Homo sapiens: one gene and its partners. The protein of the gene in region 1 purifies or fractionates together with the protein of each later gene. This does not show direct contact. Each region holds a gene or a part of one and is shown in the gene's direction. Other genes may lie near its edges.

Region 1 (6,090 bases):
GGCACCCCTTTCCTCTGTGATGTGGTCTCATAGTCATGCTTGGATTTCCTAAGGCGCAGCTGAGTCATCTGCGTGACTGTGCCGTGCCCCTAGGACATAAGGTGCGAGGGGTGGGCAGTGCCTTATGTACCACGACTTTGGCTTTGGACATGGGCAGACGCCTGACCTTTAGTCTGCTCCTCCATGCCACCCGGGGGTGTCTTTATCCTTGCCCGGATCCAGAGCTGTCACTTGGGAGCTGCAGCCCCTCCCGGGCCTTTCTGTCCCTGCTAGATTGTAAGCCCATGAGAAGGCAGGGCTGTAACCCTGCAGTTCTGGAACCTCCACAGAACAGGGACTTAACTAGCGCTGGTTGAGTAAACAGACGTCTAAATTCGGAGGCAGACTGTGTCTGAGGCTCTCCTGAATCTGGGACATGAGCCCCCAGGTCTATGCACTTCATGAAGTGGCCCGTGGAAGCATCACCTGGGGTGGAGAGAAGCCATTCACTCATGTTGTTAACAATAAAATTGTATCTTTATCTGAATTTAGAAGGGAGCGGGACACTGAAGATGAGGATGTGTGGTGACACTGATGAACTGAGTATTCAGGAACCAAGTCCCGTTTAGGTAGAAGCCAGCAGATCTCAGGACTGCTTGGCCTGACGTCCGTTCCGCGGAAGGTCTTCTGGTGACATCGGTGTCTGGGATCATAACCCTTGAGGCATTCATTGCAGAAACCTGTGCTGTCTTCTGAATCGCCACAGACAGATGACATTATGGACAGGCTGGTTTCAGTATTAAGGTTTTTAGTATTTTAACGTTTTGAAAATCGCCAGGATGTGTGTGGCGTGGATGGAACCTACTATCTAGACTCTGCCAGAACATTCTCTTCCATGATTGTCTTAATGGGCTGAACATTTAATCCTTAATTGCTTTTAAGATATTCTGTATCATCAGCCAGAAAATAAAGGGGAAGAAAAAAACCCCATAAACGAATACTGGGTCCTGTACAGCTAATCACCCTATAATCAATATACTCGGTTTAGGGCTGACAGGGTTCTCTTGGCGCTCACTGAGGGCTGCACTGCGCCGCTCTGATTGTTTTTGTTTGTGTGCTGTTTGTCCCCCATTTAGAGTCCTCTGGGTGGATCTTACTGTGACCACATGGTTACATGGGGACGCCGAGGCTCGGAACGCCTCGGGTCACTAAGCTGAGCGCGTGCCCCTGCTGGAGATGGCGCAGAATGACATCACAACATCACAGCCGAGGCTGCACTCAGGCCCCCTCTGGTGCTTCTCCTGCTCAGCCCTTAGCAGCTCACCGACTGGGCCGCAGGGTCCATCTAAAGGCTTGAATGCGCCTCCAGTTGACTCCTCAGCCCTCCAGCTCTCCATGATTCTGCCCACCCACAGTTCCACTCCACGATACCTGCCTTTCTTACACGGTCACCCATATGCTGCTTCTCTTCATTCACCCGTTAAGTCTCTGTGCACCCCTGGTAGCAAGCGTAATGAGACAGGAGGGACTCGACGCCCTCAGAGGCTGCCGTGTGTGAGGAGGGGCGGGTGCGTAGACGAAGAGATCATTGACGGTGGGGGATGGATTCTGTATTAAAGGTTTGCACGGGGCGCCTTGGGATTCTACACTGCAGCTGTGGTTGGCAGCGCAGGACGGGGAGGAGGGAGGCTAGAGCGGCACCGCGTGTACACAGCCACAGAGGCAGAGAGTGGCCGCATCTTATTTGAGGAATGGCAAGTAGATGGTTGGAACTACGGAACACAACATTTGGAGGCGTGAAGCCAGAGATGAGGACGGGAAGGTGGTCAGGCCCAGAGGCTACCAAGGCCCGTGCTGAGCTGCTAAAAACATTCACTAAGGGCTGGATGTGGTTGGATTTGCCTTATAAAGAGATTGCTCTGGAATGGATACAAGCAAAACACGAAATCTGAATAAGGTTGGTAGTTGTCTCATTGTCGATATCCTGGTTGTGATATTGTACTGTAGTTTTACAAGATGTCACCATCGCGGGAGTCAAGGTAAAGGGTGCATGGGATGGCCGTGTGTTGTTTCTTACAACTGAAGTTAATCTACAGTTTTAGAAAGGTACGCCTATCACATGCGTGTGTGTGTGTGGTGTGCGTGTGTGTAACATTCAGTGTGTGTGTAACATTCTGTGTGCATGCGTAACATTGTGTGTGTAACATTCATTGTGTGTGTAACATATTCAGCCAGTCCGGGACGGGGGCTGTGGCTGCTGCTTCACCAGGGCAGGCCTAGGCTTTTCTGCTAGTTAAGACAGGTGACTACTTGTAGACTCTGAAAATAATTTGTATTTCTTAAAATTCACTCAAATCATAATTCACCACCTTTTTCTTTAAATGACCAGCTCATGAGTTACGGAAAAAGGTTACTCTGTCAGCGGATAATATGGTGGATTGAAGGGGCAAGACCCAAGGCAGATGGAACTGTGGGACCCCTGGAATAAAGCAGGGAGGGTGGACCAGGGCTGGCCATGGCTTACCTGTGTGGGGTTGGTGTCTAATAGATGCAACACGTAACGCTGCCTTCAGACTAACACATCAGATGGAGGTGGTGCTGACTGTCTCACCTGGATTCCACGTGGCATCGCCTGGGTGCTCAGCACATGGCCAGGGCTAGTGATGGACCTTCTGGACGCAGGTCACTCCTGCTCGTGTGTCCTGGACGAGAGAGCTGCGCGCCGGCTCCCTACAGCACCCCGGGAACCCCAGAGCACGTGCCACCACATGTCAGCTGGGAGTCTGAGCTGATTATTCCACCACTCTTGAGTCTTGGGGTTCTGGTCTGGAAAGGGGATGGTGGCAGCATTGCCTGCTTAGTGCTGTTAGGAAGACGGGCTGAGCAGTACTGTGAGGAAGATGGGCTGAGCAGTGCTGTGGAGGCTTTGAATAGGGCCCTGCATGTAGGACGCAGCCAGTGACTCTGGATCGTTGTCAGCGTCCCCGTCCTGTCCAAATGGCAGGTCCTTATCGAACCAGCTTGGCCTCCAGCTCCCCAGGCTCCCAGGGAGTGGAGATTATTATAGAAGTGAACACAGAGTCAGGCAGAGGACGCCACTGAGTCGGGGGCTCCATCTTCTATGGAGCTGACTTTGGACTCCGCTGGCAGCAGCTTCTCCGGCACCCAGAGGCTTTGGTGTCCGGCTGACCCGGGCTGGCAACCGGCTCCTCATCGTGCTGCCCAGCCACACGACCTGAGCTTCAGGGTAAAAAATTAAATAAGCAACACGGAGTGCCTGGCGCACAGTCACTGTCCCCTTTGCCTTTGAGAAAACGCCCCCTGAATGCCCATTCCTCTTTTTCAGGAACAAGACTGCCAATGGAGACTGCCGCAGAGACCCCCGGGAGCGGAGCCGCAGCCCCATCGAGCGCGCTGTGGCCCCCACCATGAGCCTGCACGGCAGCCACCTGTACACCTCCCTCCCCAGCCTTGGCCTGGAGCAGCCCCTCGCACTGACCAAGAACAGCCTGGACGCCAGCAGGCCAGCCGGCCTCTCGCCCACACTGACCCCGGGGGAGCGGCAGCAGGTGGGCCTCTGTCTGGGAGGGTGGCGTGGGGAGTCCAGGGGCTGGGGGACTGGGCTGGATGGAGAGCCCCGAGCAGAGGACTCCGAGGGCGGTGGTGAGGGAGGGAGGTGGTGAGGGAGGGAGGTGGTGAGGGATGCCACCCTTCGCCTCTGTTGTGCACTTGGGACAAGGGACAGCAGAACAGGAGTCCTCTTCTGCTTTTACTTCCTGCCCAGACCTGCCCGGGCCTTGCCTCTTAGCACTCACGGCCTTGGGCAAGGTGAATGTCACTGGGGCTTCATCTCTTTCCTCTCCCAGTACAGGGGTGGTGTACTGAGGTGTTTCCTCCAGCAGTCTTCTGTGGCAGGCCTGATTCTCTTAGGATGAATGTAGTCATCCTCGGGTGGGGGGGTCCTACGTTTCTCCTTTAGACGGTCACGCGGATGAAGGGAAATGTCAGGTTGCTTTGCCTTGGGCTGGGGTCCTGCACAGTTGATGGTCACAGGGTTGTGAGCCCATGCTGGTCAGAAGCCTATGATTGGTACATAGGGATTTTTTTCTATGAAAGGAAAATAGGAAATTAAATGATTGCTTAATAAACACAGCTTGCTTGGTAGAAACAAATCTTTTTAAAAATGGGGTTCCTGGGGAAATATATGGGAGAAGGCAGCAGCATTGAGGAGGCTCAAAATTACTGCTTGAGCTCTCCGAATCTCCAGGGACTGCGACCTAATAGGTCCTTAGTCAGTAGTCAGCATTTGCTAAGACTGACAGAGAGGATGGTGCCGTGCCCCGAGGGGGTGCCTCCGGGCTCTGTGCATTCAGCTGCAAGAGCCTCTGTGTCCCTGTGGCCTCACCGGGGCTTCCCTCCAAGTGGCACTGCCTGGTGTCCGTGTCTGATGGGGTCTGTTGAAACTGTGGGTGGGGTAGGCCCTGGGAGTTGGGAGAGGTGGTTCTGGTGCTTGGGAATCCTGGTGAAGCTGAGAACAGTTGCCCATCTTGCCTCAGAGCCTGACATGGTAATCCTGTTTGTTTGATTCATCCATTTAACAAAATGGCACAGACCCCTGCTGTGTGCCAGGGGGTACCAGAAGCCAGTCAAGCAAGATGCAGTTTTTGTTCTCAGCACGCTCAGTTTTAGTCTGGAGGAGAGATCGCTGATGTGTCTGATGGAACCCGAGGCCAAGTTATCACTGCTGTTCATTTCAACGTTTTACGAGCGCTCACCATTTACCCAGCCCTCTGCAGAGCAGAGCTGTGGGCAGCCAGAGACGTGTGTGTGGACACTGTCACGGCCACAGGGAGCTCCCAGTCTAATTGGGGAAATGGACATGAGAAGAGAGGATTGTGCTGTTGGGCAGCAGCAGGGGCTGGAACAGAGGCGTGTGCGCAGTGCGACCCACAGGGACCCGCTCACTGCTCCCCGGGGTGGGCAGTGGACCTTTCTGCTTTGGGAAGCTCAACAGGCATTGTAATGCTGCCATGAGCCATGGCCTGAACCGTGCAGGCAGAACCTGGCTCTCTGGCCATTGCCACTGCTGTTGGGGAGTCCCTGAAGGACACGGGTATGGAGGGGAGGATTCAGCTGTAATCTCGGAGCACCCACATCCAGCCTCTGGCCCTTGATGACCTGGGGGACATAACTGTGAGCCTTACAAGCTATCTCTGCCCACATGGTCAGGGTGGGCCCTTGGCGGGCTTAGTGTGTTCTTGGATGATTTATTTCCTTGACTCTTCAGGGCTCTTGAGAATCTTGCAGTTGGTTTTCGGTCACAGTTGCTTTGCAAAAACTGAACTGCTGAACAGAGTGGCCTGACTCTCTTTACCCTGTCTCCCTCTCCCCAGCCTGGAATGGGCCTGGCTGCCCACGGCACACGTGGCAAGGGCCCCTCCTTGTGCCTTGGGGCTCCTGAGCAGCTTTCCTAGGAGGAAGAACCTCGACCCCCCAGCTATATCTTTATGGGATCCTGGCCTGGACTGAGGACAAAGCCAGGGGCCACGGGGTACCCCAAGCTGCCCATTTTCCTGGGAAGGGCACAGTGGCCCTGACCGGAGCTGTCATTTTCGGCTGGGGTTGGTCAGTCCTGCCCTCCTTGCCGTGGCTGCTGTCAGCACATGTCATTCATGTCGTAACCATTCGTGGGGCTCCTTCCTGCGGCAGCGTGGCGGGGCTGAGGCCATGCACACCAATCCGAGCTGGGCTCGGGCGCCCTGCTGAGGACACCAAGCAGCCACGTTGCCTGTGCTCCAGCAGCTCCGAGGTCTCTTCCTGGAAGTCTGTTGGGTGTCATCCTGCAGCTCAGAGCCAGGGAAATGGCAGTGGGGAGGGGGCTTCCTGGGGTGACAGCAAAGCTCTGTGTCCACAGGCAGGCAGGACGCATGCTGCAGCCCTGTGGGGTGGGCACGGTGGAAGCCTTCCTCTGTGTGGCAGAAAATGTGTCTCAGATCTCTGGGAACTGGGACAGGAAAGTTCCCAGAGGGGCATGTATGGGGAGGCTACAGAAAGTGTCCCCCCATTTCATGTTTGTGATAGCAGCTCAGGACAGACAAACACCAAGAGGGT
Region 2 (6,090 bases), on another chromosome or scaffold:
GAGAATGCCGTGAACCCAGGAGGCGGAGGTTGCAGTGAGCTGAGATCGCGCCACTGCACTCCAGCCTGGGCGACAGAGCGAGACTCCGTATCAAAATAAATAAATAAATAAATAACAAAAATTAAGAAGTGCATACTGGATGCCTAACTCTGTTTGTAATTAGATAACTTGATAATTAAATTACTAATTACCTGAAGTATTTAATTTTTATTCAACTTATTTTTTTTGTTTGGTTCATAAATGCTGATGTTGCCAACATTTTTTTTATTTCTCCAACTTATGTTCCACCTATTTTTATTCAGACCAGTAGAAAATAGAAGGGATAATTATACATCTTTTTCATAGTGTTCTACTAGTTAGTTATCACCTAATTTCTCTATTTCTTAGTTTCCAAACCAAGATCTACTTATCTTCAAATGTGTATCTTTAAGACTAAAAAGTGCTTTTGGAAAAATTTTTTCTCTTTCACTACCATGTTCTAATCACCTTCCATCTTCTGTACTGAGTCATGTCTGAATGCAGTCTTCTCTGAAATGGTTAAGACAAAGAAATGATATTCTATAGCTCATTTATATTAGTCTAAATATAATAGGATAAAATTTTGAAAATGAAAAGTTTAGGAATCACTGCTTTAGGAAATTACGCTAAATATGGGATGTAACTTTGATTCTTTTCTTTTGAACCTTTAGGTCCTTTAATCCATTTTTCCCATTACTTGGCTGTTTCACAACACCAGGAGTTCAGCTATGGGCAGTTTGGGCCATGCAACATGTCTGCAGCAAGAATCGTATGTACCAAAAAAAAAGAACTGTGTTTTTTTTCTTTAAGTGAAATTCTCATTTCCCAGGAAAGATATTTCTAAATTGTGTATTAAAGTGATTTTTAAGAACACTGACTTAAAATGTAAGGCCATCTTAGGTTATAAACTTAAGGTATTCTTTTTTTTTTTTTTTTTTTTTTTTTGAGACGAAGTCTCGCTCTTGTTCCCCAGGCTGGAGTACAGTGGCGCGATCTCGGCTCACTGGAACCTCCGCCTCCTGGGTTCAAGCGATTCTCCTGCCTCAGCCTCCCGAGTAGCTGAGATATCAGGCACCTGCCACCATGCCCGGCTAATTTTTGTATTATTATTATTTTTTTTTAGTAGAGACGGGGTTTCACCATGTTGGCCAGGCTGGTCTCAAACTCCTGACCTCAGGTGATCCGCCCGCCTAAGCCTCCCAAAGTGCTGGGATTACAGGCATAAGCCACTGTGCCCGGCCAACTTAAGGTATTCTTTCAGAATGAGCATGGTGTAACTAGACACTGAATAATAGTGGTGAATGAGACACTGTTCTCACCTCAAGGAATTTAAAGATTAGGAGACTACAGTGAGTCCATTTGTTGAGTAAAAGGTCTTAAGTAGATCCACTGTTTATGGTACATTCCGGTGCCCAATTCTCATTCACCCAAAATTCTGTTGTTCAAGATGTCGCTGCCAGCACCCATGGTTTCTGAAGAAGCAAAGTGTTTGAATCAGGTTCTATATTATTCTTTGAAAGCTACGATGTAACTCTTATTTATTTATTTAGAGACAAGGTCTGTCTCTATCACTGGAGCTGGAGTGCAGTGGCATAGTAACAGCTCACTGCAACCTTGACGTCCAGGCTCAGATGATCCTCCTGCCTCAGCTTGTAGCTAGGACTACAAGTGCACGTCACCATACCTGGCTTTTTTTTGTATTTTTTGTAGAGATGGGGTTTCATCATGTTGGCCAGGCTGGTGTCAAACTCCTAGGCTCGAACGATCTGCCTGCCTCTTCCTCCCAAAGTGCTGGCATTACAGGCGTCAGCCATCAAGCGTGGCCTAATTATTTATTAATATAAACTCATTCCACAAATGATTTGACACAAGAAATACACAGAACCACTTTAATAGTAAAGTGTGTATATATATGTGTATATATATATATATATATATATATATATATATATATATTTTTTTTTTTTTTTTTTTTTTTTTTTTTTTTTTTTTTTTGAGATGGAGTCTCACTTTGTCACCCAGGCTGGAGTGCAGTGGTGCGATCTCGGCTCACCACACCCTCCACCTCCCAGGTTCAAGCGATTCTCTTGCCTCAACCTCCAGAGTAGCTGGGACTATAGGCCTGCACCACCACACCTGGCTAATTTTCGTATTTTTAGTAGAGACAGGGTTTCACCATTTTGGCTGGGCTGATCTTGAACCCCTGACCTCAGGTGATCCACCGACCTCGGCCTCCCAAAGTGCTGGGCTTACAGGTGTGAGCCACTGTGCCTGGCCTACTTTTAGTTTTAATTAGAAGTAAGGAAAAATAATTTTTCAAAAATTATAGGGGCCGGGCATAATGGCTCATCCCTATAATCCCAGCATTTTCTGAAGTTGAGGTGAGTGGATCGCTTGAGCCCGGGAGTTTGAGACCAGCCTGGGCAACATGGCGAAACCTAGTTTCTATAAAAGATGTAAAAGAAATTAGCCAGGTGTTGTGGTGTGCTCCTGTAGTCCCAGCTACTTGGGAGGCTGAGGTGGCAGCATCATCTGAGCCCAGAAAGCAAGGCTGCAGTGAGCTGTGATGGCACCATGCACTCTGGCCTGGGTGACAGAGTGAGACTCTGTCTCAAAAAGAAAAAAAAAAATTCTAGGATAGAGGGAAAATAGTCAAATGTAGACTTGTAGGCCATGCATAGGGATTTTTGTGGCTCTGCTGCAAGTAAAAAGCGACATGGTTCTCCATATAAGAGGGAAACATTCCATATCCTTGTCAGGGGAGATGGGGAGGGGAGAGAATTTTTTATGAGAAGTTAACTATGAATTAAATTTCTTCTATTGGACCTTAATAGGGGACATACTATAAAGGGCCTTATATAGGATATGTGAGAGTTGTTTTTACTAATATCCTTATAGCAGAAGTAGTAACATTTAGTGAGATTTTCGCTTGGGTTTTTTTTTTTTTTTTGGAGACGGAGTCTCACTCTGTTGCCCAGGCTGGAGTGCAGTGACACGATCTCAGCTCACCACAACCTACACCTCCCAGATTCAAGCATTTCTCCTACCTCAGCCTCCCGAGTAACTGGGACTACAGGAACACGCCACCATGCCCAGCTAATTTTTGTATTTTTAGTAGAGGCTGGGTTTCACAATTTTGGCCAGACTGGTCTCGAACTCACCCGCCTTGGCCTCTCAAAGTGCTGGGATTACAGGCATGAGCCACCGCACCCAGCTCCTTCTCTTGTATTGTTTGATGAAAACTCACTGCATACCACAAAAAGGCAATGCAGTAAAAGCTCTTCTGTGTCAGATAAAGAAGAATAATTCAATGAATGGGATGTGACCGAGAAAACTGCCTTGTACCCACCTGAACTCCCACCTGGAGGCTTATCCGGTCCTTCCTACTACATTACCCAGAAGCAGAGTTGTTCACTCATAAATCGAAAACTGCCTCTTTAGCTACATTAAACTGTCTCTGCCCTAAAGTCGTTTTCTTTTTACTGTACCCACAGGTTCTGAGGACTCCCAAATTTCTTAACAGTTGATCCCATCATATTCCCAGTCTCTAATCTATAGGTTCCTTTCCTCATAACTCAAGGAATGGACCTTTCACAGCTCAGTAGGAGAAAATAAAACATAATAAGTAAATAATAGTGCATTTTTGGCTGGGCATGGTGGCTCACGCCTGTATTCCCAGCACTTTCGGAGGCCAAGGCGGGTGGATCACGAAGTCAGGAGATCGAGACCATCCTGGCTAACATGGTGAAACCCCATCTCTACTAAAAATACAAAAAATTAGCTGTGGGTTGTGGCACACATCTGTACTCTCAGCTACTAGGGAGGCTGAGGCAGGAAAATCACTTGAACTGGGAGGTGGAGGTTACAGTGAGCCGAGATCGCACCACTGCACTTCAGCCTGGGCGACAGAGTGAGACTCTGTCTGAAAAAAAAATAATAATAATAATAATAATAGTGCATTTTCATATGAGTATTTATTTTTGTCACTACTTTTAGGTATTAGAGTTATTTAGGTTTTACTCTATGGAATGACAGCCCTGAATAATTTATTTTATTTTATTTTATTTTTTTTTTGAGACGGAGTCTTGCTGTCGTCCAGGCTAGAGTGCAGTGGCATGATCTCGGCTCACTGCAAGCTCCGCCTCCCACTTCACGCCATTCTCCTGCCTCAGCCTTCCAAGTAGCTGGGACTATAGGCGCCTGCCACCACGCCTGGCTAATTTTTTTGTATTTTTAGTAGAGACGGGGTTTCACCACGTTAGCCAGGATGGTCTCGATCTCCTGACCTCGTTATCTGCTCGCCTCGGCCTCCCAAACTGCTGGGATTACAGGTGTGAGCCACCACGCCCAGCCCCTGAATAATTTATTCTAAAATGCACTGTAATTTGGGGAATATTAGAATATTTTGTCTCCAACTCAGATAGTTTAGGTTCCTACCTTGTGGGCTTATTTTGTTTATATTTAAATGGAATTCACTTCTATTTGTATTAAAATGTTTTAATGTGGCTGGGTGTGGTGGCTCACACCTGTAACCCCAGCACTTTGGGAGGCTGAGGCAGGCAGATCACTTAAGGTCAGGAGTTTGAGACTGGACTGGCCAGCGTGGTAAAACCCCACCTCTACCAAAAATACAAAAATTTAGCCAGGTGTGGTGGCTGGTGCCTATAGTCCCAGCTACCCAGGAGACTGAGGAAGGAGAATTGCTTGAACCCGGGAGGCAGAGGTTGCAGTGAGCCAAAATTGTGCCATTGGACTCCAGCCTGGGCAACACAGCAAGCTGCAGTGAGCCATGATCACACCACTGGGCATGAGCCATGATCACCCCAGCCTGGGCAACAGAATGAGACTGTCTTTAAAAAAAAAAAAAAAAAAAAAAAGGCTAATAAAATATTTCAAAAATTTAAAAATTGTATGTGCAGTATGAGTGCCATTAAGTTTTTAAAAAGCATAGTAAATGCAGCCTGGCATTATGGCTCATGCCTGTAATTCTAGTACTTTGGGAGGCTGAGGCGGGAGGATTGCTTGAGGGCAGGAGTTTGAGACCAGCCTAGGCAACATGGTAAAACCCCATCTCTACTAAAAATAAAAAAATTAGCCAGGGGTGGTGGCATGTGCCTGTATTTCCAGGCTGAGGCACAAGAATCGCTTGAACCCAGGAGGCGGAGGCTGCAGTGAGTCGAGATTGCGCCACTGTACTCTGGCCTGGGCAACAGGGCAAGACTCTGTCTAAAAAAAAAAAAAAAGCATAGGAAATGCATAAAAATATAACAACACTTACCTGTGATTTTGGGTCAAAGATAAGGTAGTTATGATTGTTTTTATTTTTTTAATACAGGTTGTACATGTCTTGAGGTTAGAAAAATCAAGCTAGCTATTTATTGATTGAATGTGTAGGCCTTGCACTGTAGACGTAACATCAGTATAGAGGTTATTTATCAAGCTGTAGCATGTTAGTGATCAATAACAAAACAGCTAAAAAAAAATGGCTCCTAGAAGTCATTTTTTTGTGGAATAATTTTCAAGTGTTTTAAGAAAAGCTATTTCTCCTGTTTTGTGTGTGTTTTTTTTTCTTTTTCAGCTTCAAGGTATTGCAGCATGCTGATTGAAGAAGGAGGATTGCAGCATTTATACAACATCAAAGATCATGAACATACTGATCCCCATGTCCAACAGATTGCTGTGGCCATTCTGGATAGCTTAGAAAAACACATTGTGCGCCATGGGAGGCCACCTCCCTGTAAAAAACAGCCCCAAGCCAGACTAAATTGATAGCCATAAGTATTGGATAGTTGAATCACAGGAATCCTTTTTGTGATTGGTCCATTTGGAATATCTTACCCTCCCTGATGTTTTGGGGGTTTCTATGACAAGAGTCATAAAATCAGTTTGGGATTGATAATGTGTAGTACTGCCCATGTGAACAGTCTCTAATTTGTCTTGTGATTTTAAACTTATGAGTCAAGAAGGGTCTCTTCCTTTATCATTGCCTTTTAGGAAATTTTCCACATCTTTCAGTGTTTGAACTTACTTGTGCTTGAGATTCTACAGTTTTATGGTAAAGTTTGCACGAAC
Region 3 (6,090 bases), on another chromosome or scaffold:
GGACCATTGACATGTACCCCATTTTATTAAAGAGAAATTGCATCAGCATCACACAGGCTGTCAGTGCTCAACGTCACACCACCGTGTGTCTGCAGCCCAGAATCTGGTCGTGGCCACCACCGTGGGGCATCTGTGGACCCCAGGACCAGATGTTGGTTCAGCTCCTTTCTTCTTGGGCATCCTCAGCTCAGAGAGGGAGATTCTGGTCTGAGGAATGACGGGCAAATGGAGAATTAGTCAGTTTTTACTTAGAACGAAATCACCTGTCTCAACTATCAGACTCAATGCCAGGATTGTCCAAGCCTCTCCCATCAGATCCACATTCCTTCCCTCACTGGACGTGAAATCATGAATTTCTTGATTTGTTGATGTCACTCCCATGGGAGGATGAAGGAAAGGACTCAGCTTTCTCTTCCCACTACACCCTGTACCTGCACAAGGCCCAACTGAGACACACACTCAGTAGTTCTCTGATGAAGGAGGGAGGGAATTAATGAAAAAAGAAAGGAATAATCATAACCTCTTTACAGACTGGGTCCTGGATGTAGGATCCTAGGAGGAGCTGGCCACACCTCTTCCTTGTCCCTTAGGGGCTGAGACCCATGTTCCATTTCTCTGACTGCCTGCTCCTAAAGCCACCCCAGGTATTGCATCTCATGTGACTCTGGGGCCGCTCATCTGTGGGAGGGTTTTCAGGGCTCCCTGGTCCTGGTCTGAGGCAGCTGGGTCCTCCTGGTCCCTGGGGTCTCTGAGGTCACTGTAGTCCCTACTGCTCGCTGCTATGGGTGTCTCTGGTTCTCTCTGCTCCTCCCTGTCCTTCATCTTTCTCCTTTATTCACAGGAGAATGTTCTAAATTTGACTCTGAGATCTCTGAGGATGCAGCATGGCCCCAAGACACTTTCTGTTGGTCACTCTATCCACAGAGTCAGTGGCTCAGCCCTCCATCCAAGCCAGCAGCACCACAGTCACAGAGAAGGGCTCCGTGGTCCTGACCTGCCACACAAATAACACTGGAACCTCTTTCCAGTGGATTTTCAACAACCAGCGTCTGCAGGTCACGAAGAGGATGAAGCTGTCCTGGTTTAACCATGTGCTCACCATAGACCCCATCAGGCAGGAGGACGCTGGGGAGTATCAGTGTGAGGTCTCCAACCCAGTCAGCTCCAACAGGAGCGACCCCCTCAAGCTGACTGTAAAATGTGAGTGACCCTCGGCCCCTCTCACTCCTTTCCTTGTATATTTTCCTAGGAGGGAGGGGGGGTGTAAAATGATACACGGAATGAGAAGGATGAGATTCCTTCAGAGCCTGGGGAGCAATGTGGGTAAGAACTCAGGGATTAGACTCATCCAGTTATCATCCTGGTTACAATAGGTACCAGGTATTTGACCTTGGGCAAGACACTCAACCTCCTGGGCCTCAGTTTCCTCATCTGTAGAATTGTTACAAACACCTGGACCTCAGGGTGGTTGTGAGGATATTTATTCAGAGATTAATGCGATTAAAGCCCTTAACAAGGTCATGCACAGAGCCAGGGCTCAATCAGTGCTATCAATATCGACTGGTATTATTTTTATGAACTTTGTTGTTATTAGCTGTTAAGTTGAGCAGACTTTGGTTACATTTTTGTTGTATCACTTTCACTTACCAGTTCTGTAATCTTAATTGAAGTACTGAATCTTAATTGAAGTACTGAATCTTAATTGAAGTACTGAATTGAAGTACTTCAATCTTAATTGAAGTACTGAAACTATAAGTTTCAGATTCTAAATTGGCAGATGGGATTCCACCCTGTTTGGAAAAACTCAAACTGTGTTTTTCCTCTGCTCTCACTCCACAATAACAATCATCAACACAGACACACTTCTGTGACCAAATGTGATGGGGGGGGGTTTCTCCCACACACCCAGCAGCCAATCAGTTCTGCACCGTACATCAGCTAGGTGTCCTCCAATTCCATCCTGACACTATCTACCTGGACATATCAGCAGAGGGCTCAGTCCCACAAAATTGCCACCACCTTCCCACCAGTCACAAGTCTGGGCCTCCAGAGCTTCTTATGACTGGCTTCACATTGAGGTTTCCATGACTCCCTGTTTGGGTTGGATTAGTTTGCTCAAACAGCTCTCAGGACTCAGGGAAACACATACTTAGGCTTACCGGTTTGTAATAAAGGACTTTACAAAGGATGCAGATGAAGAGATGCACAGAGCATGGCATGTGGGAAGGGGTGTGGAGCTTCCATGCCCTCCCCAGATGCACCACACTCCAGAAACTTCCATGGGTTCAGCTCTTCAAACCCAGTCCTTTTGGGGTTCATGACATAGATATGATTGATTTAATCATTGGCCATTAATTGATTCAATCATTGGCCATTAATTGATTCATTGGTCATTGGTGATTAATTCAAACTCCAGGTCCCTCCCCAGGGATTAGGGGTGAGGCTGAAAGTCCCAACCCTCTAATCCTACCTGGGTCAGTGACCAGCCTCATTCTGAAGTTGCCTAGGGGCTGCCAGTCATCAGTCAATTATTAGCTTGAAAAAGACATCACTTTGAAGATTCTAAGGACTTTAGAGTCACATACCAGAAAATGGGTGTATTAGTCTGTTGGGAGCAAGCCCCCCAAAATCTGGCCATAAACTGGCCCCAAAACTGGTCATAAACAAAATCTCTGCAGCACTGTAACATGTTCATAATGGCCCTAATGCCCAAGCTGGAAGGTTATGGGTTTACAGGAATGAGGGCAAGGAATACCTGTCCCACCCAGGGTGGAAAACCGCTTAAAGGCGTTCTTAAGCCACAAACAATAGCATGAGCAATCTGCATCTTAAGGGCGTGTTCCTGTTGCAGTTAACTAGCCCAACCTATTCCTTTAATTCGGCCCATCCCTTGGTTTCCCATAAGGGATACTTTTAGTTAATTTAATATCTATAGAAACAATGCTAATGACTGGTTTGCTGTTATTAAATATGTGGGTAAATCTCTGTTTGGGGCTCTCAGCTCTGAAGCCTGTGAGAACCCTGATTTCCCACTTCACACCTCTATATTTCTATGTGTGTCTTTAATTCCTCTAGCACTGCTGGGTTAGGATCTCCGCGACCGAGCTGGTCTTGGCTGCTGATAAAGACATACCTGAGACTGGGTAATTTTTTTAAAAATGAGGTTTAATTGACTTACAGTTCCACATAGCTGGGGAGGCCTTGAAATCATGGCAGAAGGCAAAAGGCATGTCTTACATGGCGGCAGGCAAGAGGGCATGTGTAGAGGAACTCCCCTTTCTAAAACCATCAGATCTTGTGAGACTTATTCACTATCATGAGAACAGCATGGGAAGAATCCACCCCCATGATTCAATTACCTCCCACTGGGTCCTTCCCCCAACACGTGGGGATTATTAAAATTCAAGGTGATATTTGGGTGAAGAAGAGCCAAACCATGTCATTCCACCCGACCCCTCCCAAATCTCATGTCCTCACATTTCAAAACTAATCATGCCTTCCAACAGTTCCCCAAAGTCTTAACTCATTCCAGCATTAACCCAAAAGTCCAAGTCCAAAGTTTCATCTGAGACAAGGCAAGTCCCTTCCACCTATAAGCCTGTAAAATCAAAAGCAAGCTTAGTTACTTCCTAGATATAATGGGTGTACAGGCACTGGGTAAATACAACCATTCCAAATGGGAGAAACTGGCCAAAACAAAGGGGCTACAGGCCCCATGCAAGCCCAAAATCCAGCAGGGCAGCCAAATCTTAATGCTCTGAAATGATCTCCTTTGTATCCATGTCTCACATCCAGGTCACACTGATGCAAGAGCTGAACTCCCATAGCCTTGGGCTCCACCCCTGTGGCTTTGCAGGGTACAGCCCCACTCCTGGCTGCTTTCATAGGCTGGCGTTGAGTGTCTGCAGCTTTTCTAGGTGCATGGTGCAAGCTGTTAGTGGATCTACCATTCTGGGGTCTGGAGGATTGTGGTCTTCTTCTCACAGCTCCATTAGGCAGTGCCCCAGTAGGGACTCTGTGTCGGGGTTCCAACCCCACATTTCCCTTCAACACTTCCCTAGCAGAGGTTCTCCATGAGGGCTCTGCTTCTGCAGCAAACTTCCACCTGGACATCCAAGCATTTTCATACATCCTCTGAAATCTAGGCGAAGGTTCCCAAACCTCAATCCTTGACTTCTGTGCACCTGCAGGCTCAACACCACATGGAAGCTGCCAAGGTTTGGGGCTTGCACCCTCTGAAGCCATGGCCCCAGCTGTACCTTGGCCCTCTTTAGCCATGGCTGGAGTGGCTGGGATGCAGGGCACCAAGTCTCTAGGCCGCACACAGCAGGGGAGCCCTGGGCCTGGCCCAGGAAACATTTTTTCCTCCTAGGCCTCCAGTCCTGTGATGGAAGGGGCTTCCAGGAAGGTCTCTGACATGCCCTGGAGACATTTTTGCCATTGTCTTGGGGATTAACATTTTGCTCTTCATTGTTTATGCACATTTCTGCAGCTGGCTTGAATTTCTCCTCAGAAAATGGATTTTTCTTTTCTATTGCATCATCAGGCTGCAAATTTTCCAAACTTTTATGCTCTGCTTCCCTTTTAAACATAAGTTCCAATTCCAAACCATACCTTTGTAAATACATAAAACTGAGTGTTTTTAACAGTACCCAAGTCACATCTTGAACACTTTGCTGCTTAGAATTTTTTTTCCACCAGTTGCCCTAAATCATTTCCCTCAAGTTCAAAGTTCTGCAGATCTCTAGGGCAGGGGCAAAATACCACCAATCTCTTTTCTAGAGTATAACAAGAGTCACCTTTGTTCCAGTTCCCAAGAAGTTCCTCATCTCTGTCTGAGACCACCTCAGCTTGGACTTTATTGTCCATATCACTATCAGCGTTTTAATCAAAACCATTCAACAAGTCTCTAGGAAGTTTCAAACTTTTTTCCTGTGTCTTCTTCTGAGCCCTCCAAACTGTTCCAACCTCTGCCTGTTACCCAGTTCCAAAGTCACTTCCACATTTTCAGGTATCTTTATAGCAGCACTCCACTAGCTGGTACCAATTTACTGTATTAGTCCATTCTCACACTGCTAATGAAGACATACCTGAGACTTGGTAATGTATGAAGAAAGAGGTTTAATTGATTCACAATTCCACATGGCTGGAGAGGTCTCACAATCATGATGGAAGGTGAAAGGCATGTCTTACATGGCAGCAGGCAAGAGGACATGTGTAGGGAAGCTTCCCTTTATGAAACCATCTGATCTCCTGAGACTTATTCACTATCACAAGAACAGGATGGAAAAAACCCACCCTCATGATTCAATTACCTCCCACAAGGTCCCTCCCATAACACATGGGGATTATTACAATTCAAGGTGAGATTTGGGTGGGGATACAGAGCCTAACCATATCAATGGTGATGAACACCAAATACGTATTTCACAATATCACATACCCTTCTCCCTCAAGGCAATGGGAGGGTGAGAAAAGCTGCAGGTAGATTGATTCCCACTGTGCCTTCCATGTGGAAGGCCCCTGAAAACAGTCAATGAACATCATCCCTGCTCATCAGCATTGAGTTGGCAGCAAGGGCCTGCCCTTTACGACTGCCATGGGATGGAAAAAAAGAAACAGGGGGAAGAGGAGTGATGTGAGAGGAAGGAGGGACTAAAAAACACAGGAGCAGGATGAGGTGCAGGCTTCCTGTGGGAGAATGTAGGAGTTGATGCATCCCAGTAATTCAAGCCTAAGACACAGAAAATGGTGCAACCACGGAGAGCAAGGGAGCCAGCTATGAGGACAGCACAACAGACCACACTCAGGCTCCATGGCATTTCCTTCCTCCCTGACCATGCCCCTGCCCTGCAAGGCCCCTCATGGTTCCCCCTGGAACAGATTTGGACCTCATCCCCTTTGCCTTCTTCTTTCAGCAGATGACAACACTCTAGGCATCCTGATCGGGGTCCTGGTTGGGAGTCTTCTGGTGGCTGCACTTGTGTGTTTCCTGCTCCTCCGAAAAACTGGCAGGTACCACAGCTTTTCCCCATTCTGCTCCCATCCTTCACGCTGACCCCAGGCGAGAAGGAAGGAGACCCTGTCTTG
Region 4 (6,090 bases), on another chromosome or scaffold:
GGTTTAACTCATTCCCTGAATGCACTATGCTCACTCTTAAGTCTGTGCGTTTGTCTTTCTTCTCTCTTCTGTCTGGAGTGTCCTTCCCTGCCTGCCTTTTGGAAAATGTCTATGCATCCTTCAAGGACCATTTCCAATATCACTGCCACTTCCTCCAGGAAGCTTTCCTTGACCCACTTCATACATTGTTCATTTATTCATTCTGCAAACAGCACAAATTCCTCCATCTAAGCTTCCTTGATAGCACATAAGTAGATTTTTCTGATGGCACTGATCAGATTGTATCACAATTATCTGTGGGCCCCTTAAGGGCAGGACTTCATTTACTTGTGTCCTCAGATCTACTACAGAGCCTAGTACAATATTGTCACTCTGAAAATGCGTGCTGAATGAAGTCCTTTAACAGCTCCGTGGCTTAGTTTCTTCATCTGTAAAAGAGGGCAACTAACATCTTCCTTTTTTCTGTTAGGAGGCCATTGGCAAGATTCTGCCTGTAGTGTTTGTGTTTGTGAAAGTACTTTGTAAACTACAGAGGAGGTCTTCAAATGCAGGACAGAAAGGAAAGGGTTTAATTGCTGCCAGACTACAATAGCCAGAAGGGCAGGAGACCTGCCTGGCAGCACCTGCTTTGTTGGCCTGGGGATGTTTCCTAGGTGGTTTATAGGTGGTTTCCTAGGTGGGTTTTCCTAGGTGCCAGGTGCGGTTTATAGCTTTGCTCACAGGGCTTATAGTGGGGCAGCTACTTCTGGCTTCGTGTCTGGCCTGTTCTTTGGGTGTGCCCAGATTCTGCAGAGTTCCCACTCCCTTTCCATCCTATGCTGGAATCCTGAGCCCTATTGCTTAATGAAGGAGTGTTGTAGCAGGAGGCAGGGGGAGTCATTGGGTGCAAGGGAGTGGTCCAGCCTTGTCTCTTCCTCCAGCTCACAGCATTACTTGGGCAAGTCCCTCCCTCCCTCCCCCATCTGTAAAATGGGGGTTAGGTTAAGTGACTTGTCTTCTGGGTATTTCTCTTGTCACACCTCTCCAACCCCTTGGGAATCCTGTTCGTTCTCTAAGTCCTAGCTCAAATGCCACTCTCATGGAAACACTCCCTGATTTTACCCTCCTTCCTTTGCAGTCCTATGGCACATGACTTATGTCTCCATTTCAAACACCTGTTTTCCTTATGCTGTTTTGTTAGACGTTACACAGTGTCTACATGTTAAGTCTTGTTAACTGTGAGTGCCTTCAGATTGCTTCACTCTCCTTTATACCCCACCCCGCACAGTTCACCTGGCCCAGGACTTTGCTGATAACAGTAATTAATATAGCAATAGCAGCTATGACTTACTGATCATTTGCTTTATGCCAGGCACTGTTGTAAAAACTATTTTTCTTATGTGAGTGGTTTTCAGACTGTCTTTTCAGTCACTGTGAGGGGTTTTCAGAGCCCCCTCAGAATGTAGCAAGGGAGGGGGTTCCATATTGTAGGGGCTCTGGAGCTCCCACCTTACTTCAGCCAGAGCAACTTTCTTGTATTTGTTTTATTTATTTTATCAAAGGATTCTTTCTTTCTCTCTCTCTTTTTTTTTTTTTTTTTTTTTTTTGGAGACAGGGTCTCCCTCTGTTACTCAGGCTGGAGTGTTGTGGCACAATCACAGCTCACTGCAGCCTCCAACTTAGGCTCAAGTGATCCTTCCGCTTTAGCCTCCCGAGTAGCAGGGACTACATGTGTACCACCATGCCCGGCTGATTTTTAAAAATTTTTTGTAGAGGTGGGATCTTACTATGTTGCCCAGGTTGGTTATCAAAGGATTCTTTAGCTAAAAATTAAACTGACAGAATTTTGCTGCATTTATTTTTTATAATCTGCAGAACAGTCCAGTGAGGAAGGAATTGTTCTATTTGTGAGGAAGCAGGCTCAGAGAGATGAAGCCACGGGCCCACAGTCATGAACTTAGCTGATGGGAGCAGAGTTTTAAATTGAGATCTGTGTGAGCCATTCTTGTCTGTGAAGGAGTCTTGCTAGTAGCTATGACAGCTTCTAGGGTAGAAAAGCTCCCAAGGATTGCTGAGTGGGTGACAGGGCCTGCTTCCTGCCCTCCCCACAAAAAAACCTCATGAATTTGGCCTTAGCCTTAAGAGTAATTATTTCAAGCTATCAAACACAATAAAAAGAGAAAGCCCAGGCTCTCAGTGGCTTGGCCACTGGTGCACTTACAGGTTGATCTAGAACGTATCTAGATGGTGCCGTTCTCGGAGCTGGGCCTAGCTGCTGTCTGTGCCCTTGAGCTCAGCTTGTCTGCAGATGTGTTGGGGCTGTGCTCTGCTGGGTCCTGTGCTAGCCATTTAGGGAGATGGAGCGGAACACTCCGAGGGCTACTGGTGTGGGAAGATGGATGAGAGAGGGAATGCCCCCATGTATGCTCTAATGCACAAATGCCCTGGACATAGAGCCAAGAGACCCAGGTTCTGGTCCCAGCCCCTCCACACAGCCTGTGTGTGACTTTCCTGGACTTGAGTCTTGTCCTCTGTAGGAGGCTATTATTAATAGTGTTTATTGAGTGCTTAATTTGTGTCAGGCCCAATGTCAAAGGGCTTCACATAGCTGGCCTCATTTCATTCACAAACTAACCTGAGAGGTAGCTATTATTATTCCCATTTTATAGCAGAAGATGTTGAGGCTTAGAGAGGATAAGTCAGTCCAGTTAGTAAATGGCAGAACCTGAACTTGAACTCTTGAACTGGTTGTTTTTTGTTTGTTTGTTTGTTTTGAGATCGGATCTTACTCTGTCACCCAGGCTGGAGTACAGTTGTGTGATCATGGCTCACTGTAGCCTCGACCTCCCCAGGCTCAGGTGATCCTCCCACCTTAGCCTCCTGAGTCATTGGGACTATAGGTGTGCGCCACCACACCTGGCTAATTTTTGTATTTTTTAAATAGAGATGTAGTTTTTCTATGTTGCCCAGGTTTTTAGTAGAGATGTTGTTTTTCTGTGTTGCCCAGGCTGGTCTCTAACTCCTGGGCTCAAGCAGTCTGCCCGCCTCAGACTTCCAAAGTGCTGTGATTACACAGCTGTGAGCCACCACGCCTAGCTGTTGAACTGGCCTTTGAAAGCATTGTATCGTATTGCCTTAGGAATAGGGTCTCCCCTGCCTGCCTCACAGAGTTGTGAGTGAGGATAGGGAAATGTTTTTACATCAGGGTAAGGAAGACATGCTGTGGATGAATCCATGCTATAGCTATGTCATTTGTGACTGATGAGGGTCAGGGGTGTGTGTTAGAGACTGCGTTTGCCCCATGAGTTCTGCAGATAGAGATGGGAGTACCACAGGATGGGCATTTGGAATTCTGTTTGATTCATTTGCCTATTCATTCATACAGGAAATATTTACCAAGTATCCATTCTACACTGGGAGCTGGGGATAAAGTGACAAACCAGACAGGATCCTAGCCCTTGTGGAGCCCCTTGATGTGCAGGAAAGGAGAGTTAGGAAAGGAGGATTTCAACCCTGACTCTGCAGGTCATTGGCGGGGTGACTTTGGGTAACTCGTTGCTCCTCTGGAAGCCTCAGTTTGCCCATCTGAGCAGTGAGATCATAATTCCAACCCTACCTATAGGATCAGTTGAAAGGATGGTGGTGGAAGTGCTTTATGGTTGTAAAGTGCCATACTCTGCCTAGTTTCTGGCCTCATCATTCTGACTGATATCTTGCTCTTCCTGCAGGGCTGCCCAGGAGCTGCAGGACAAGCACCAGGAGCCCCTCCGGGTAGCTACTACCCTGGACCCCCCAATAGTGGAGGGCAGTATGGTAGTGGGCTACCCCCTGGTGGTGGTTATGGGGGTCCTGCCCCTGGAGGGCCTTATGGACCACCAGCTGGTGGAGGGCCCTATGGACACCCCAATCCTGGGATGTTCCCCTCTGGAACTCCAGGAGGACCATATGGCGGTGCAGCTCCCGGGGGCCCCTATGGTCAGCCACCTCCAAGTTCCTACGGTGCCCAGCAGCCTGGGCTTTATGGACAGGGTAAGTAGTAATCTTGGACTCCGGGTACCTCTGACGTGGTTCTGAGTTATCCATGGCCAGCCTTTGTCCTTCCTGTGGGTGTGCAGGCAGCCTGGTCTCTGGCACCTTAGCATCTTGCTTCCAGCTTCAGTGTGTATCCTCAAAATGATAAGTTTGTCAGCTAGTTTTGTTGCAAGCATTTATTTGTATTGCTTGCTCATGCTTACTTTCTTTTGCTTACATGTCAGCAGCTGTTAGCTGGCTGTTGAGTTTCTGTTCCCTGTGTCTTTTTCATTCAGGGATACATGCTGAAGGAGCAGCTCCTGTTTGGGATATGTTATCTTTGTGGCAGAGAGAAGGAGCAGGAGAGCTAGCAAGAATGCACAATGCCTCTTAAAGCTTCTCTGAAGTACTGTATGTCTTGCCCACTTGCATTCTTTTGGCCAGAGCACCCCCTGATCAAGACTGACATCAGTAGGATGGGAAAGGATGCCCCTCTGCAAGCCACCAGGCAGTGGGAGAGGATGTACAATGCTCTTATAGGGAAGGGGAGATTAGCAAGTAATCTAATAATAGATTATTGAACTGGCCTTTTAAACCATTGTACCATATTAGTACAATGTCTGTGGGTGTGCAGACTGTGTCTCCTGGCTAGAGATTATTAGCCAGGAGACGATAATGTAGCCTACCATGGGGAGAAACTCAGTTTAAATATCCGTTTCTCTGTGAAAATATCTCAGAAGACACACATTCCAGGCTCTTTGCTGAGGATTTTATTTTGCTGTTATCTCATTTAATCATCACAACAATTCTGGGGAAATGGGTTCATTTTAGAAATGTGAAAATCATTACTCAGAAAATTGTACATTTTGCCTAAAGTCACACAAGCTAGTAAGGATCAGATCCAGGGTTTGAATCCAGGTCTGCTTTGATTCCAAAGCCTGAGCCCTTCTATACAAACTACACAGTTCAAACATGTCACAGAATCTCTCCTGCCCTGGGGCTGTGGCCCTTGCTCCCCTATGACACCGATGTTTTAGGAAGATGGCTAGAACCTGCCCGGATTTTTCCAAGGAAGTCAGACTAATCCCTAAGTCAGGCATACCTTTTTCCCTCTGTCCTTACTGGGCTTTGGTACTAGGCAGTGGTTTCTGTCCTCCACAACTGCCCATGGCTGTCTTTGTGTGAAGGGACCCCGATTGTGGCCAGTTAACTCAGTGTCCTAAGGTAGACAGACTTACCAGCTTCTACACTGTTTTTTTTGGGTTTTTTTGTTTTTTTTTTTTTGAGATGGAGTTTCGCTTTTGTTGCCCAGGCTGGAGTGCAATGGCGTGATCTTGGCTCACCACAACCTCCACCTCCCGGGTTCAAGCGATTCTCCTGCTTCAGCCTCCCCAGTAGCTGGGATTACAGGCATGTGCCACCATGCCCGGCTAATTTTCTATTTTTAGTAGAGACGGGGTTTCTCCATGTTGGTCAAGCTGGTCTCAAACTCCCGACCTCAGGTGATCCGCCTGCCTCGGCTTCCCAAAGTGCTGGGATTACAGTCGTGAGCCACTGTGCCTGGCCACTTCTACACTTTTATCTACCACCCATTCCCCCATCTCGCAGTTTACCTTTTCCAGAGAATTCTTGAAATGCTACAGGGGTACAGGTCCCCGTTCCTTAAAAACATAAAATCAATTAAGAGTAGTGTCTGGAACACTATACGAGAACTCCAGAGGACTCATGGAATAGAAATCAACTGCAAATACTCATGAATCTTCACTGAAGGTCCTCTTCCATCAGAGTAAGAATGTCAGCTTGATGGAAGACAGGGAAGGTGAATTTGTGAAGCTTCGTGTGTAGGAGAAACCTGTAGCCAGGAAGTTACTGAGGCTGGCCCTTCCTGGCATTTCTGTTGATGGCCTTCACACCCCTTCCTCCAGGTGGCGCCCCTCCCAATGTGGATCCTGAGGCCTACTCCTGGTTCCAGTCGGTGGACTCAGATCACAGTGGCTATATCTCCATGAAGGAGCTAAAGCAGGCCCTGGTCAACTGCAATTGGTCTTCATTCAATGATGAGACCTGCCTCATGATGATAAGTGAGTCTCCGCCTTGCCC

What was found.
Region 2: the proteins of VGLL4 (region 1) and ZYG11B purify together in Homo sapiens (affinity purification with mass spectrometry; one large-scale study listed by BioGRID and IntAct). This does not show direct contact.
Region 3: the proteins of VGLL4 (region 1) and CEACAM21 purify together in Homo sapiens (co-immunoprecipitation; one large-scale study listed by IntAct). This does not show direct contact.
Region 4: the proteins of VGLL4 (region 1) and PEF1 purify together in Homo sapiens (co-immunoprecipitation; one large-scale study listed by IntAct). This does not show direct contact.

Annotation. Positions count from the first base shown.
Region 1 is NC_000003.12:11,562,255-11,568,344, reverse strand, and holds part of VGLL4 (transcription cofactor vestigial-like protein 4), read left to right. Parts: intron 1-2,503; exon of another isoform or gene 2,504-3,325; coding exon 3,326-3,548; exon of another isoform or gene 3,549-4,059; coding exon of another isoform or gene 4,060-4,086; intron 4,087-6,090. UniProt on the Homo sapiens protein: May act as a specific coactivator for the mammalian TEFs.
Region 2 is NC_000001.11:52,815,843-52,821,932, forward strand, and holds part of ZYG11B (protein zyg-11 homolog B), read left to right. Parts: intron 1-689; coding exon 690-787; intron 788-5,596; coding exon 5,597-5,787; 3' UTR 5,788-6,090. UniProt on the Homo sapiens protein: Serves as substrate adapter subunit in the E3 ubiquitin ligase complex ZYG11B-CUL2-Elongin BC. Acts to target substrates bearing N-terminal degrons for proteasomal degradation with the first four residues of substrates being the key recognition elements.
Region 3 is NC_000019.10:41,578,429-41,584,518, forward strand, and holds part of CEACAM21 (cell adhesion molecule CEACAM21 isoform 1 precursor), read left to right. Parts: intron 1-530; exon of another isoform or gene 531-644; intron 645-841; coding exon of another isoform or gene 842-924; coding exon 925-1,200; exon of another isoform or gene 1,201-1,204; intron 1,205-5,918; coding exon 5,919-6,015; intron 6,016-6,090.
Region 4 is NC_000001.11:31,633,140-31,639,229, reverse strand, and holds part of PEF1 (peflin), read left to right. Parts: intron 1-3,707; coding exon 3,708-4,008; intron 4,009-4,286; coding exon of another isoform or gene 4,287-4,384; exon of another isoform or gene 4,385-4,564; intron 4,565-4,737; exon of another isoform or gene 4,738-5,915; coding exon 5,916-6,071; exon of another isoform or gene 6,072-6,090. UniProt on the Homo sapiens protein: Calcium-binding protein that acts as an adapter that bridges unrelated proteins or stabilizes weak protein-protein complexes in response to calcium.